Linked DNA regions of Homo sapiens. The protein of the gene in region 2 purifies or fractionates together with the protein of the main gene of each other region. This does not show direct contact. Each region holds a gene or a part of one and is shown on either strand. Other genes may lie near its edges.

The links.
Region 1: the proteins of PLSCR4 (region 2) and DPH1 purify together in Homo sapiens (affinity purification with mass spectrometry; 2 studies listed by BioGRID and IntAct, with this or other methods). This does not show direct contact.

The regions. Positions count from the first base shown.
Region 1 is NC_000017.11:2,026,021-2,033,935, reverse strand, and holds the start of DPH1 (2-(3-amino-3-carboxypropyl)histidine synthase subunit 1), read right to left. Parts: upstream 3,784-7,915; 5' UTR 3,782-3,783; coding exon of another isoform or gene 3,767-3,781; coding exon 3,706-3,766; intron 432-3,705; coding exon 279-431; intron 158-278; coding exon 94-157; intron 1-93. UniProt on the Homo sapiens protein: Catalyzes the first step of diphthamide biosynthesis, a post-translational modification of histidine which occurs in elongation factor 2.
Region 2 is NC_000003.12:146,205,327-146,213,427, forward strand, and holds part of PLSCR4 (phospholipid scramblase 4), read right to left. Parts: intron 1,436-8,101; coding exon 1,200-1,435; intron 1-1,199. UniProt on the Homo sapiens protein: Catalyzes metal ion-induced ATP-independent rapid bidirectional and non-specific movement of phospholipids (lipid scrambling or lipid flip-flop) between the inner and outer leaflet of the plasma membrane and participates in the redistribution of phospholipids between membrane leaflets.

The DNA.
Region 1 (7,915 bases), on a different chromosome or scaffold from region 2:
ATGCCCGCCACCAGGGCTTTACCCACCCGGGTAATGAGCATAGGGGGTGGGGGAAGCCTGGCTCACCCTCCTCTCCAGTGCCCCAAGCCTCACCTTTCCAAGATATCCACAATGGTACAGGCAAAGAGGAGGAGGCCTTCCGGCATTTGCAAGGCCACTGCAAGACGAGCAGAGACATGAGAGGTGGAGGGCTAGGAAGGGGCTGCAAGGGGGACACTGTCCCATCTGGGCCAGGCAACCTCTCCACCCCAACCCCAGCTCAATGATCACAGGCTCACCCTTCTTGGCCTGGGCTTGTTGGATCCTCCAGATGGTCTTGGGGATCTCAAAGTTGTAGTTGGAAGGCAGGACCCGGATTGCTGCCTGCAGCTGAGGGTTCTTCAGGATCTCAGGGGGGATCTGATTGGCCACGCGGCCCCGAGGGGCCCGACCTAGAATGGATATAAGGCCTGAGTTGGTGTCTGTCTTTGGCTGAAGCCAGATTGAGATGGAATAGGGATCCCTTTTCAGGGCCTGCCGGTGCCCCCGCTCAAGCATAGAAATAAAAATTTTGAGTCATCTCAAGAAAAATCCCAGGCATCTTAGCTAGCCCTACAACCAGCAATTAGGGAATTAAATAACTTGCTAAACAAGAAGATAATAAACAACAGTCACCCAAGTCAGAGTCACGAGATGCCTGGTTCCCTATAGAAACTACACATAACACCTTGACATATATCCCTAAGTTGTTTTTCAGAAACCAGGACACCCACCCCCCCACCAGGTGAAAAATGCCAACTAATTGCTGTCATGTAAGACCTCAGACAGACTGAAGCCAGAAAATAGGTAAGAAAGTTCCAGAAATTCCCCAGCCCTTAATTCACTTTAAAGATCCCCAGAAGCCCAGCCTTTAAAAACCCTCTGCAGCCGGGCGCAGTGGCTCACGCCTGTAATCCCAGCACTTTGGGAGGCTGAGGCGGGCGGATCACGAGATCAGGAGATCGAGACCATCCTGGCTAACACGGGGAAATACTACTCTCTACTAAAAATACAAAAAATTAGCCGGGCCTGGTGGCAGGCACCTGTAGTCCCAGCTAAGGCAGGAGAATGGGGTGAACCCGGGAGGCGGAGCTTGCAGTGAGCCGAGATCACGCCGCTGCACTCCAGCCTGGGCAACAGAGCGAGACACCATCTCAAAAATAAATAAATAAATAAAATAAAAACCCTTTGCTTGTAAGCCATCAGGAAGTTTAGGTCTTAAGCTTTAGCTGCCCAGTCTCCCTGCTTGGTGCCTTACAATAAATGCTTGTTCTCTCCCTGCAAATCTCCATGTCAGTGTTTGGCTTTTGCTTTGTGTGGATGGGAAGACCCAAGTTGAGTTTGGTAACAAGACCCAGCTAAGCTGTTAACTCCACCAAGTTTAAGGGCCAGATCCAGACACCAAGGGGGTTGGCCCAGCTTTCGTTCTCACTGAATTCATCCTGAAGGTAGAGACAATTCATTAAGCCAGAAGGTAACCGGTATAATTTCCATGTTGTGAAATCACTGGGAATCGAAGACTTGAGCCCATGAATAGAATATGGCTCACCTTCTTCCTCAGGAGAACAGAGGTGACACCAGGGGCTAAGGGGCAAAGAATGAGTCTGAGTCCATATACTGCTCCCTGATAGAGAACAGCCCTGCGGAAAACCTAAGAGTCAGTCTAGCCAGCCCAGCCAGCCTGGGAGAATGTCCCCCCTCTCCCACCTCCTGAGGACACCTTGAAGTTTTGAGCTTCTAGATATGAGGTCTATAAGCAAACCGTTAAACATGAATACTAACTTAAAAGACTGCCCTCCTGACTCAGAACCCCACTGACTGTGGCCACACTGTTCGTTCTTTCACGCTTACCTCTCCTCATTTAAAAGGGAAATAAACATCATACATTTAACTGACTTAGCTGTCCCATTGCTCCTCCTTACTCTTAAACCAGGAAGGATGGAAAGAACACTTGAGTCAGGGTGGTGGACGTACCAGTAAGGACAGAAAAGTGACCTTGTCCCTTAGAGACCAGCAGTCTAGTGGGGGAAAAGACAGGTATACACATAATTACAACTCCTGGAGTAAAGGGGAAACCGTAGCCCTTAGCAAACTGCAACTCTTACTCTGGTCTCATCCTACTCCTAAGTAGGATAAAAAATAATAAGCTGAATAAACAATTCATCTTATTATTTTTTAAGGCAGGGTCTCACTCCATCACCCAGGCTGGAGTGCAGGGGTGCAATCATGGTCCACTGCGGCCTCGACGTCCTGGGCTCAAACGATAATCCTCCCACCTCAGCCTCCCCAGTAGCTAGGACCACAGGCATGTGCCAAGACGCAGGGCTAATTTTTTTTTTTTTTTTTTTTTTTGAGACAGAGTCTCACTCTGTCTGTTGGCCAGGCTGGAGTGCAGTGGTGCAATCTCGGCTCACTGCAACCTCAGCCTCTCGGACTCAAGCAATTCTCCTGCCTCAGCCTCCCGAGTAGCTGGGATTACAGGCGTGTGCTACCACACGCGGCTAATTTTTGTATTTTTAGTAGAGACAGGGTTTCCACCATGTTGGCCAGGCTGGTCTCAAACTCCTGACCTCAGGTAATCCGCCCGCCTCAGCCTCCCAGAGTGCTGGGATTACAGGTGTAAGCCACCGTGCCCGGCCACGCACGGCTATTTTTTATTTTTTTGTGCATACAGGGTCCCCCTATGTTTCCCAGACTGGTGTGGAATTCCTGGGCTCACACAATCCTCCTTAGCCTCCCAAAGTGCTCAGACTAAAGGTGTAAGCCACTATGCCCTGCCCCGACAATTAAGCTTAGTTCAACCCCGTTATCTCTTCAGGAGCCACAGAGTCTGAGGATATGAAAAGGCAAGAAATTAACTTATTCAACGAATATGTATTGAGACTGTGCTATGTGCCACAACTTCTGCTAGGGCCCCACACTATGATAGGAGGGACCCGCCCAGACATGAGGCTTCACCCACTGTGTGGGCGGCGGTGGGGATGGTCCAGCGGAGGCTGGGGCCCTGAGATCAGATTTGAACGTTACCACTGCTATGGTTTTTGGCCAGTTGTTTCAAAAGCCTTGGACAATCAGCCTAGGCTTCCTAGGCCCATTACAGATCCTCCTCTGACAGGTCCCTAGTGGTCGCTGGCGTGTAAGGAACTGCTAACATTAGCCCTTCAATGTGTCCCAGGGACCAGTAGGCACCTCCTCCTTTATCACGTGGCTATGATATGTTTACATTAACATTCCCCCAGTAGACTGAGATCTCTGATTCTAGTACCTGCACCCAGCGCAGGCCTGGCATTCGGTGGGCGCTCAGTTAATGCCTGGCGAATGAAACCTTTTGCCTCTTCCCTGAAAGCATTCCCTGAGGGCGCACTCGTAAAATGCCCGCTGCATCTGGCCTGGCCCTTTCCCTCCCCGTCGAGTCCATTTTATCCGTCTACCCGCCAAGACAAGGCTGTAGTTTCCGATTGGAGGATTAAGGGCTGCTCTCGGTCGTGCCCTAAAGCTGCAAAAGACTGGTACCCCTGGGCTCCGGCTGACAGCGACCCCGAGCTGGTGACAGCGGCCCAAGGCGACTAACAGCGGGATCTAGCGGAGAAAGGCGCCGCCGCCGTTAAAGGGGGTTGGTCCTGTCCCTAACTTGGGGGCCCCGCCCCGAGATGCGAGGTCTGGAGGGCGCAGCGTTCCAGCACCCACCTCTGCCAGGGCCGTCTCGGCCGCCCTGCTCCGCTGCCCCGGATACGACCAGCGCCGCCATCACCTGCCTGCGCATGTGGTACTAAAAAGACAGCGCTGGAAGAACGCGGAGAGCGCAGACATTGCGATCGATCGCCGATCGGCCAGCGGGGGCGGGGGATACCCGCTGGGCGGGGCCATAAAGGAGGAGATAGGGGCGGGGCTGTAGTGGGCTCCACCCCAGCCCAGAATGCCGGGACTCAGGATTCCCTAGAGGTCCCCGACTATGCAGTTGCCCTTGCCCTGCGACTTAGTCTCCCACTCCTCTCCCCGGCCGGGCACGAGCCTGGCACTCCCGGACCGGTGCTCTCCTATGTGCGAACTCCCTGCACGAACTCTGCAGGCCGAGTCTTGTGAAGGGGACACCCACCAGATGTTCCTTGAGCCCCCCCTGCCAGTCTCCCCTCCTGGTAAGCAGTGGTCGGTCACCCGGCCGCCGTGTGGGGCCACGTTCCCTACCTAGGGGGACTCTACTGTCCGGCAGGACAGAACTCAGGGACCACCAGCCCAGCTCCAAGTTGAGAGTCTTGGTGCAGGTTTGTGGATCGCCCTTATCAGCTTTTTAAATTATTTTTTTTGAGACAGGGTCTTGGTCTGTCGCCCAGGCTGGAGTGCAGTGGTGCGATCATGGTTCACAGCAGTCTCAACCTTCTGGGCTCAATTCATCTTCCTGCCTCAGCCCCCTGAGTACCCGGGACCACAGGCGTACGTTCAGCTAATTTTTTTTTTTTTTTTTTTTTTTTTTTTTAGTAGAGATAAGGTTTCACTATTTTGCTCAGGCTGGTCTTGAACCTCTGGACTCAAGCAATCCTCCCACTTTGGCCTCCCAAAGTGCTGGGATTACAGGCGCGAGCCACTGCACCCAGCCTTTATCACCTTTAGAATCCACTGCGTAGACCCTGTAGAAACTGCCCCTCTGGGGAAGGCCCACAGCCTGAGGGTGCTTTCCTGGGAAGGTGGGCAGTGGAGGACTGTGATGTCTAACCCTTCTGGACCCTGGCCAACCTTTGCCCTGCCCCTCAGGGCTGGTCTTTCTCCTGATCACTGGCCAGAGCCCCAGAGACCCCAAAGAGAAGACAGCCAGTGAGACGGCTTTGACCTGTGGAAGAGCAAAGTACCTGCAGGACTGGCCCTCAGCAGTCTGTCCCGTGGAACAATGGTCTTCCAGGTCTGACGGTCTACCCAGCCCCCTGGCATCCTCCTCCTCTCTCTGCGGTGGTGCTGTGATCACAGCTGGCCCTTTAAGTCAGCTCTGTGTCCTCGGGCTCCCCCAGAGGCCCTCCCTGCTTGGAAACCCCTAATTAAGGTGCAGGGAGAAGTAAAAACAAGCAGCCAGAGACAGGCCCTGCCTGGGAGGCTGCCCAGAGAGGAGGAATGGCTGGACAGGCAGGGAGTGAGCAGCTGAGGGACCATCACCAAGGGTCAGTGCTGTGCCCCCCAGGCCACCGGCACTCTTAGGACAGGTAGCTCTAGACAGAAAAGTGACCAATGTGGGTCCCAGGAACACTCCCCTCAACTCGATAAGCGTCCGGACTAGACCTTCCCATCTCCCCCCAGCTTCTCTGGATCCCCAGGGTGCAAGATCTGAATTCTGGGAGCTCAGCCCCTCCTCTCTCAGGACACTGCTGCCCAGCCTGTGGACAGCCTTAGCTGTGACTGCAGCATGGAGTTTCAAGGGGAAAGGACTGGCTCCAACTGAGCAATGGCTTCTCCCTAGCAGGCGCCATATCCCTTGGGACCTTTCCCTCATCAGAGGTGGGGCCTGTTTGATGGCAAAAGTCCCATCCCTCTAGTAACATTGCCCCGCACCCGCTGTGCCTAATGAGCTGCTCTGGCCCCCATTAGGAAGCCGGATGATGCCTAGGAGAACTGGACATGAAGAACAGATGTGAGAATGCTTCCCCAAGACTCCGTGGTGCAGGACATTGGGGGCTGCCATTCAGCTTGGGCTGAGGGCACCTCCATCTGTCTGTGGGGGTCTCCCTGCCTGAGTTACTCAGCAGTCTGAGTAATTACTGCCTGACAAGAAGGCGGGCACAGTGCACCCCCACAGTACACCACAACACCCGCCTTCACTCGCCCCCACTCCCTGGCTGGACTCCAAGGCAGCACCCAACCCTCCTGAGGCCTGAAATAACTCTGCTTCTCACACTCACGCCCAGCCCCAGCCAACTTTTCCTAAGACGCTAGAGTTTGTGGGCTAGGGGGTCATGGGGAGGCGGCTTGGAGAGGTGGAAGGAGGATTATCCCACATTCAGGCCCTGAGTCAGGCCCACACTTTATCGCTGATCTGTGATGTGACGTTGAGCAAGTTGTTCATCCTCTCTGGGCCTCGGTGTACTTACAGAGGACCTCTCAGGCTCCCAGTGTCAGGGCTAAGGCAGGCAGTGGGGTGAGCACTGCCTTGTAGCTGGTGGCTAAGAGAAGGAATACCTCACCTTCTGTTCTACGCCAAGAGGGACCAATCTTTTTTTGTTCGTGTTTAACTGCTCCTGTGGCCATGGGCAGTGTGCCCAGAGTAGCAGCCATCCATCTTTTTTTATCTTTAAACATTTTTTTGAAATAGAGATGGAGTCTCACACTGTTGCCCAGGCTGGTCTCAAACTCCTGGCCTCAAGCAATCCTCCCACCCCAGCCTTCCAAAGTGGTGAGATTATAGGTGTGAGCCCATGGTCCTCAGGAAGGACCAATCTTATCTATCTTCAGAACAAGGTTACTTCTCACCTTCAAGCATCTACGTGGAATGCCCTTCCCCCTTCTTAGTGTGGTGAACTCAGCCTTCAAGACCTAACTCCAAGGGCACCTCTTCTGTGACTGTTTCCTGATTATCTGGTAGCCCCTGGCAGAGCTAGCAGAGCCCTTTCGCAGTCTTTGTGACTTCTGTCAGTCACACTCTAAGATGGTTTGCGGGTCTTTCTTTTCCCACGACACCTGAAGCTTCTGGAAGTCCAAGCCCAGAGCCTTAGCTCAAATCTGAAGCTTCAGTGCCACCAAATGCAGGTGTGAGTGAATACGTCAGACTGGCCTTCTTTTTTTTTGTTTGTTTTGTTTTTTTGAGACAGTCTCGCTCTGTCACCCAGGCAGGAGTGCAGTGGTGTGATCTCGGCTCATTGCAATCTCCATCTCCTGTGTTCAAGAGATTCTCCCGTAGCCTCCCAAGTAGCTGGGATTACAGGCGCACACCACCACGCTCGGCTAATTTTTGTATTTTTAATAGAGACGGGGTTTCACCTTGGCCAGGCTGGTCTCGAACTCCTGACCTCAAGTGATCTGCTCAGCCTCCCAAAGTGCTGGGATTACAGGTGTGAGCCACCGCGCCCAGCCTGGCCCTTTTTTTTTTTTTTTTTTTGAGACAGAGTCTCACTCTGTCACCCAGGCTGGAGTGCAGTGGCGCGATCTCGGCTCACTGCAACCTCCGCCTCCCGGGTTCAAGCGAGTCTCCTGCCTCAGCCTCCCGAGTACCTGGGATTACAGGCGCCTGCCACCATGCCCGGCTAATTTTTGTATTTTTATTAGAGACCGGGTTTCACCATGCGGGCCAGGGTGGTCTCGAACTCCTGACCTCGTGATCTGCCTGCCTCCGCCTCCCAAAGTGCTAGGATTACAGGCGTGAGCCACCGCGCCCGGCCCTGACCTTCTTTTTGACCTTCCTATCATGTCACCTTTTCCTACAAGGAGGGATTCAGTTGGATTTCTGCTTGGATGTCACCTGCTCAGAGCAGCTTTCCTTGACTGCCACCTCTACCCCCGTGTCAGCTCCAGAACAATACTCTGCTTGTTTTTCTTCGAAGCACAATCTTCCCATCTTCTCTGGACTTTCCTCATTTGGCCCCTATTAAAATGGAAACTCCTTGAGGACAGGGCAAAGACAAGTCTTTTTCGTCTGCTGAATTTTCAGGAACAGTAGTGCCCCACACATGCTGAGCCTTCGGTGAATGTGTGTTGAATGACAGCCTTGGTCCATCCGCTTTTTCTTCTCTCCGAATCCCTCTGATCCCAGGCCAGCAGGGGGTGCCGCCTCCACCCAGGATCTCGCCTGGCCCGAACCTTCTCTTCCCTCAGCTCAACAGGCCCCTGCGGGACCCGCTTTCCAAGCGGCGCCTCCTCCATTTTCCGCGAACCCCCCGGCGGGGTCTGTGTGGACCAAGGGAGATCAGAGACCCCCCGCCGC
Region 2 (8,101 bases):
TTTTCTTCTTTACAATTTCATGGACATATTAATTTTACTATAGATCTTAGTAACCTTAGCATAGGAATTTTTTTATTATTAAGTAAAAAACCTTCACCTTTACATGGAAAGGAAGACCTTATGGCCTCTCTTTGGTCTTTCCTTGACATATCCAAATTCCCAGCATTACTACTCTTGTGCTTTGGAGACATAATTAAGTAAAATAAGTTACTTCAATGCAAGCACTGTGATACTGTAAGTCAATCTGATAACCAAGATGTGACTCTGGGTCTGTATACTATGGATAACATCTACAGCGTGGATACACTGGACAAAGGAATGATATATGTGCCAGGCAGAACACAGCAGGACTGTGCAAGATTTCATCATGCTACTCAGAATAAATTTAAAATTTATGAATGGTTTATTTCTAGAATTTTCCATTTAATATTTTTGGAACCTGGTTGACCATTGGTAACTGAAACCGCAGGAATCAACGCCACAAATAAAAGGCGTCTACTCTGCCAGCTTTATCTTATTTTCATTAAGCAGGTTTTTTAGTTTCAGACATGGGTTTTTAAACAAAACTATTTGTGCACAAACTTCCCATATTACCCCAGTTTTTGATCTGCATGTCCTGGTGGCAGCAGAATATCTACATAGATGTTAATTAGGGAGTTATTGTGTTGTATGAAGGGGGTCTCTGGAACTTGGCCTGAAGCAATATTCTTTGTAGGGTCCATTATTTTTATTTATATTGTTTGTTTTTGGGGGTGACAAGAGTAGCTAATGAAAATGATGGGTGGTGGTAAAAAGCAATGGGCTAAGGCACTCAGTAATTTACCCACTGTATTGTGTTTTGTTCTCTTTTGTGCTTTTTTTGATGTTAACTGTTTACTTCTAAGCAAATAACACAACTATCCTCTATGATAGTTTTTCTATTTCCATTTGTACAATTCTTTCAAGAAAACATCTTGAATGCCTTGAAGTTCAACATAAATCCTTATGAAAAACATACTCATCCCACTATAAACATCCTTGTACTTGCTGTTTCCCCTTCATATTTCTGAAACTGGTATCACTGTTCTTATAGTTTCACAAATGGCATCTGTCATCACTGACCCATCTCCTTTATTCACTCTGGTCTGCTTTTTTTCTCTCTTTGTTGGATCCCTATGGTCACATTTCATAAGAAAATAATTTGTATTTTCATGGAGTACCTGAACTAAGTATTCCAGACCAGGAGGGCAGTTTGCCATAGGAGTTGGCCCTGGCATCCATGTTATTGGAACAGACTGATTTGGCATAGGATATTTGCCAGGCTGATACCGGACAGGATGGATACCACCAACTGGCTGGTACAAAGGGAAGGTACTGGGTTGCTGTGGACTGTAGTATCCCATAGGCAAGCCTCCTGGGTAGCCAGTAGGTGGAGGGACAGCTGTTCCAGGGGGTCCTGTGTTCAAAAGAAATCAAAGTGTTATATATTATTAACACTAAAGTTAGCATAACTTTTTACATGCGATGAAATAGATCACACGACATCCACTTAAATATAACAACTTGTTCCATTTTTGATTCACACTTTATGCAGATCATGGTTGCATATGACCCAACGATGTATTAGGGAGACTTATTTACATATTAATTCATTTAATCCTCTTAAAGCTTATAAGATAATTATTCCCATTTCAATGGTACAAAAATAAGTTTTGAAACATTAGAAGAAACATGTTAGCTTCTTAATAAATTAGGTTCCTCCTTGGAGATAATAAACTTACCTAATGAGGTTGTAGTGGGATTAATTACTAACGTATTAATTACTAACGTATAATTACTAACATATAATTACTCCTGCAAATTTTTGTTATTATGTCTATTGTTATTGTTTGTGGTTACATAAATAATGTCTACTTCATTTCAAAGGAGTGCTTTTAATGAATATTTTAGGTTGCCTTGACCCAATCGCTTGTACATATCTTCATCATCGAGTTCTCAGACTGGTCCCCAATCCTGACCTCTTTTAGATTCAATTTCTTAAAGTTATTTTCTTAGTAGTTATGCTGCTATAACAAAATAAGCACAAACTGAGTGGCTTAAACAACAAGCATTTCTTTCTTATAGTTCTGGAGGCTGGGAAGTTCAAAGATAAATGTTAGCATGGTCAAACCTGGTGAGAGCCTTTCCTGGTTTGCAGATGTTCACCTTCTTGCTATATGCTCACAGAGTGAAGGGGGAGAGAGAGAGACAGAAAGACAGAATCCCTCTCATGTCTCCTCTTATAGGGTATGAGTGCCATCATGAGGGCTCCACTCTTTTGATTTAATTTTCTCTGAAAGGCCCCACTTCCAAGTAACATCACATTGGGAAATGGGACTTCAATATGTGAATTTGGGAGGGATATAAACATTCAGCCCACAGCACTTATCCCTCTATCATTTCTCCCCATTCCACCTTCAATCAGAGATCTGATGAATTATCTTTGTCATTATAAGTCCATCAAGGAACCTAGATTTCCTTAAATGGATACAAGATTTTATCATGCTTTAAGAGCACAGTCTACATATTCAATGCAATTCCCATCAAAATACTATCACCGTTCTTCACAGAACTAGAAAAAACAATCCTAAAATTCATATGCAACCAAAAAAGAGCCTGCATAGCCAAAGCAAAACTAAGTAAGTGAAAAGAACAAATCTGGAGGCATCACATTACTTGATTTCAAATGATACTATAAGGACATAGTCACCAAAACAAGATGGTACTGGTATAAAAATAGGCACATAGACCAATGGAACAGAATAGGGAACCCAAAAATAAACCCAAATACAGCCAACTGATCTTTGACAAAGCAAACAAAACACAAAGTGGGGAAAGGACACCCTATTCAACAAATGGTACTGGGATAATTGGCTAGCCACATGTATGAGAATGAAACTGGATGCTCATCTCTCACCTTATATAAAAATCAACGCAAGATGGATCAAGCACTTAAATCTAAGACCTGAAACTATAAAAATTCTAGAAGATAATATCAGAAAAACCCTTCTAGATATTGGCTTAGGCAAAGACTTCATGACCAAAAACCCAAAAGCAAATGCAACAAAAGCAATGATAAGTAGGTGGGACTTAATTAAACTAAAGAGCTTTTGCACAGCAAAAACAACAGTCAGCAGAGTAAACAGACAACCCAAACACAATCTATACATCTGACAAAGGACTAATATCCAGAATCTGTAACGAACTCAAACAAATTAGCAAGAAAATACAAACAATCCCATCAAAAAGTGGGATAAGGACATGAATAGACAATTCTCAAAAGAAGATACACAAATGGCCAACAATTGTATGAAAAAATACTCAGCATCACTAATGATCAGGGAAATGTAAATCAAAACCACAATGTAATAACCCCTTATTCCTGCAAGAATGGCCATAATCAAAAACTCAAAAAATAACAGATGTTGACATGTACGGAGAACAGGGAACACTTCTACACTGCTGGTGGGAATGTAAACTAGTATAGCCACTATGGAAAACAGTGTGGAGATTCCTTAAAGAACTAAAAGTAGAACTACCATTTGATCCAGCAATCCCACTACTGGGGTATTTATCCAGGGGAAAAGAAGTCAAAAAAAGATACTTGCATATGCATGTTTATAGCAGCGCAATTCACTGCTATAATACGGAACTAGCCCAAATGCCCATCAATCTACGAGTGGATAAAGAAAAATGTGGGATTACATATATATATGATGGAATACTACTCAGCCATAAAAAGGAATGAATTAATGGCATTCACAGCAACCTGGATGCGATTGGAGACTATTATTCTAAGGAAAGTAATTCAGGAATGGAAAACCAAATATTGTATGTTCTCACACGTAAGTGGGAGCTAAGCTATGAGGATGCAAAGGCATAGAAATGATACAATGGAATGGACTTTGGGGGCTCAGGGGTAATGATGGGAAGGGGGTGAGGGATAAAAGGCTACAAATTGGGTTCAGTGTATACTGCTTGGGTGGTGGGTGCACTAGAATCTCACAAAATATCACCACTAAAGAACTTACTCATATAACCAAATACCACCTGTTCCCCAAAATCCTATGGAAATAAAATATTTTTTAAAAAGAGTACTCATAAAAATGAATAAGCACACAACAGCTAATGTTTGACTTTAGGAATTTTTTTATCAAGGTCTCTTAAGATAAGCAGTGGTAACTTTGCATTTCACTATGTTTTTTTAAAGTCAAAGAATTGCCAACAATAAGTATGAGAATGCCATTACTGCATATCTATCTAGGTCTGGTTACCAGGAATTTTTTGAATAACTTTGATCATTACTAATTTATTTTTGTTTCACTTTCCAAGTTTTTAAGATTAATTAATTAAAATTTATAAATAACTGGGTCTTGGTTGTCTACCCAGAAATATGCAACAGACCCTAACTTATTGCTAAGGTCTTGTAGCTCTAACTGAAATCCTGTGAGTAGTAGAGCCACAAGCAGCCCACAAGTGATGTTGTCTGAACTGTCAGGAAGGCCAGGCTCAGATAAAGAAAGGTTTTTCTCCTTTAAGAGAGAATTTAAGGAATAATGTCCTGTGGTTGAAAACAAAATAAGTTATGTAAGTCAAGATATTTTATGTTAAGATTTCAGTATAGTCGTCCCTTGATATTCATAAAGGATTGGTTCCAGGACTCCCTCAAATACCAAAACCTACAAATGCTTAAGTCCCTTATATAAAATGGTGTAGTATTTACATGTAACCTACTCACAGCCTCCCATATACTTTAAATGATGTCTAGATTACTTACAATAGCTAACACAATGTAAATGCTAATATAAATTGTTTTTGTGTTATTTTTATTGTATAATTTTTATTGTCATTTTTAATTGTGCTTTTAAAATATTTTTAATCCACACTTTTTTGAATCCATGGATGAAGAATTCACAAATATAGGGGTCCAACTGTGGATCTATTTTAGTTTAAATTAAATAAAAACAACTTTTTATGAGCAGGGAATACCAGCTAAGACTTGAACTGTAAAATCTGAAGCCTTAGTGACAAGACATGAAGGCAATTTTTAAAAATGGAACTAGATTTTTCAGATTTTCAAAGGCAGATGTTTAAATTTAGAGAAAAAAATCACCTCAACATATTGTTTCTTAAATTGTGGCTCAATATACCAAGTCCTTCAAGATAATCTGGAGTTCTTAGTAAAATTCCAGATTCTGAGCCTCATTCCAATCTATTGCAACAGGATCTCTATGGCAAAACTTGAGATTAACAAAACATTTTATTTCATTGATCCTTTTTTAAAATGTACAATGTAGTGGTTTTAAGTATATTCTCAAAGTTGTGCAACCATCACTGCTACCTAAACCCAGAATTTTCATCATACCAGAAAGAACACCCATACCCATTAGCAGCAATTTCCATCTCCTCTTCCCCACAGTCCCTGAAAACCACTACTATCTGTGGATTTGCCTAATCTACACTTTTCATGTAAATGAAAACATACAATAGGCCTTTATGTCTGTTTTTTTTTTTACACTTGGCATGTTTTCAAGGTTCATCCATGTTGTAGCACATATAAGTACTTAATTCCATTTTATGGCTGAGTAGTATTCTATTGTGTGGATATATCACATTTTAGGTATTGTTTAATCAGTCAATGGACATTTAGGTTGCTTTCACTCTGGGCTATTATAAATAACACTGCTGTGATCCTCCATGTACAAGTTTTAGTGTGGACATGTTTTCAGTTCTCTAGCTATGAGTGAAATTAGCTGAAATATTTAGTAACTCCATTATTAACTGCCAAACTGTTTTCCAAAGTGGCTTTACAATTTCATGTCCACTTGCAAATATGAGAGTTCTACTTTCTCCACATCCTCCACCAATACTTGTTATTGTCTGTTTTTATTTTAGTCATCTTAGTGGGTATGAAGTTGTATCTTATTGTGATTTTTATTTGCATTTTTCTGATTACTAATGATGTTCAGCATCTTTTCATGTGCTTATTGGCCATTTGTATATCTCCTTTGGAGAACTATCTATTAAATCTTTTGCCTACTTTAAAACTGAATCATTTGTCTTTTTATTGTTGCATTATAAATGTTCTTTATATATTCAAGATAAAAGTCTCTTGCCAGATAGTTTGCAAGTGTTTTCTCTCATTGTGTAGGTTGTCTTTTCTCTTTGATAGTGTCCTTAGATATACAAAACTTTTTAATTGTTATGAAGTCCAATTTATTTTTTGTTGGTTGTTTGTGCTTTAGAGTGTCATATCATATCTAAGAAACTATTGCCTAATCCAAGGACATAAATACTTACATCTATATCTTGTAAAAGTTTTATAGTTTTCACTCTTAGACATAGGTCTTTCAAACACATAGATCTTTGATTCATTTAGAGTTTTTGTGTTTAGGGTGAGACAGTTTCAAATCATTCTTTTGTATGTTGATATTCATTTGTCTCAGATCCTTTGTTGAAAAGAGTATTCTTTCCCTATTGAATTATTTTGACATGCTTGTAAAAAATCAGTTGGCTACAGATGTTTGGGTTTATTTCTTAGACTCTCAATTCTATCTCATTGGTCTATATGTCTATCTTTATGCTAGTACTGTGGTATTGACTTCTGTAGCTTTATAGTAAATTGGAAATTGGGAATTGTGAGTCCTCCAATTTTTTTTCAAGATTGTTTAGGCTATTCTGAATCCTTTACATTTCCATATGTATTTGAGGAATAGCCTGTCAATTTAAAAATTCCACTGTGATAAGAATTGTGTTGAATCTGTAGATCAATTTAAGGAGCATTTCCATTTAACAATATTTACTTTTCAAATCTGTAAAATGCCTTTCCACTTACGTAGTCTTCTTTAATTTCTTTCAACGTTTTATAGTTTTCAATATGAAAGATATTTTACTCCTTTTATTAAAGTTACTTCTGGGTATGTTATTTTTAATGTTATTGTATGTGGAATTATAATTTTAATTTCTTTTTACATTTTTCATTGTTAATATATAGAAATACTTTTGGATTTCTGTATTATGATCTTATATCCTAACACACTGCTGAACTTGTTTATTGTGCTGTTTGTGGGTATATATGGGTTTTTTTGTTTTGTTTTTTTTTGTTTTTTGGGTTTTTTTTTTTTTAGACAGGGTCTCAGTCTGTCACCCAGGCTGAAGTGCAGTAGTATGATCATAGTTCACTGCAGTCTCAAATCCCTGGACTCAATTGATCCTTCTACCCTAGCCTCCAGGTAACTGGGACTACAGGAGTACAGGAGTGTACCACTGCACCCAGCTTAGACTTTTTACATATATAGGCTCATGTCTTCTGCAAATGGAGATGGTTTTGTTTCTTTCTTTCAATCTGGATGAATTTTCTTTCTTTTTCTTGACTAATTGCTCTGGCTAGAACTTCCAGTACAATGCTGAATAGAAGTGGCAAGAAAGATACCCTGTCTCATTCTTGATCTTAGATGAAATGAACGTTTTCAGTCTTTACTCCTAAACATAATGTTTGGTGTGAGTTTTTCATAGGTACTCTTTTATCAGATTGAGGGAGTTCCTCCTATTTCTAGTTTCTTAAGTGTTTTTATCATGGAGGATGTTGTATTTTGTCAAGTGTGATTTCTGTGCTTACTGATGTGGTCATGTGGTGTTTGTACTATATTTTATTAATATAGTACATACATTGATGTGTTTTAATATGATATTTAATGTGATAAACCAATCTTTTATCCATGGGATAAATCCCACTTGGTCATGGTGTTTAATCCTTTTTTATGTTCCTAAATCTGGTTTGCTAGTAATTTGTTGAGAAAGTCCGATTCTATATTTATTAGGGATATGATCTTTAGTTTTCTTTTCTTGTAACATCTATGTCAGATTTTGCTAATTGGGTAATACTGGCCTCTAGAATTAGCTAGGAAGAATTCATTCTTCTTTCATTTCTATGGAAGACATTGTAAATGACTGGTATTAAAACCTTCATGCAGCATTTAGTAAAATTTCCTTTTTTTTTTTTTTTTGTGATGTAGTCTCAACTGTCACCCAGGCTGGAGTACAGTGGTGTGATCTTTGCTTACTGCAACTTCTGCATCCCGGG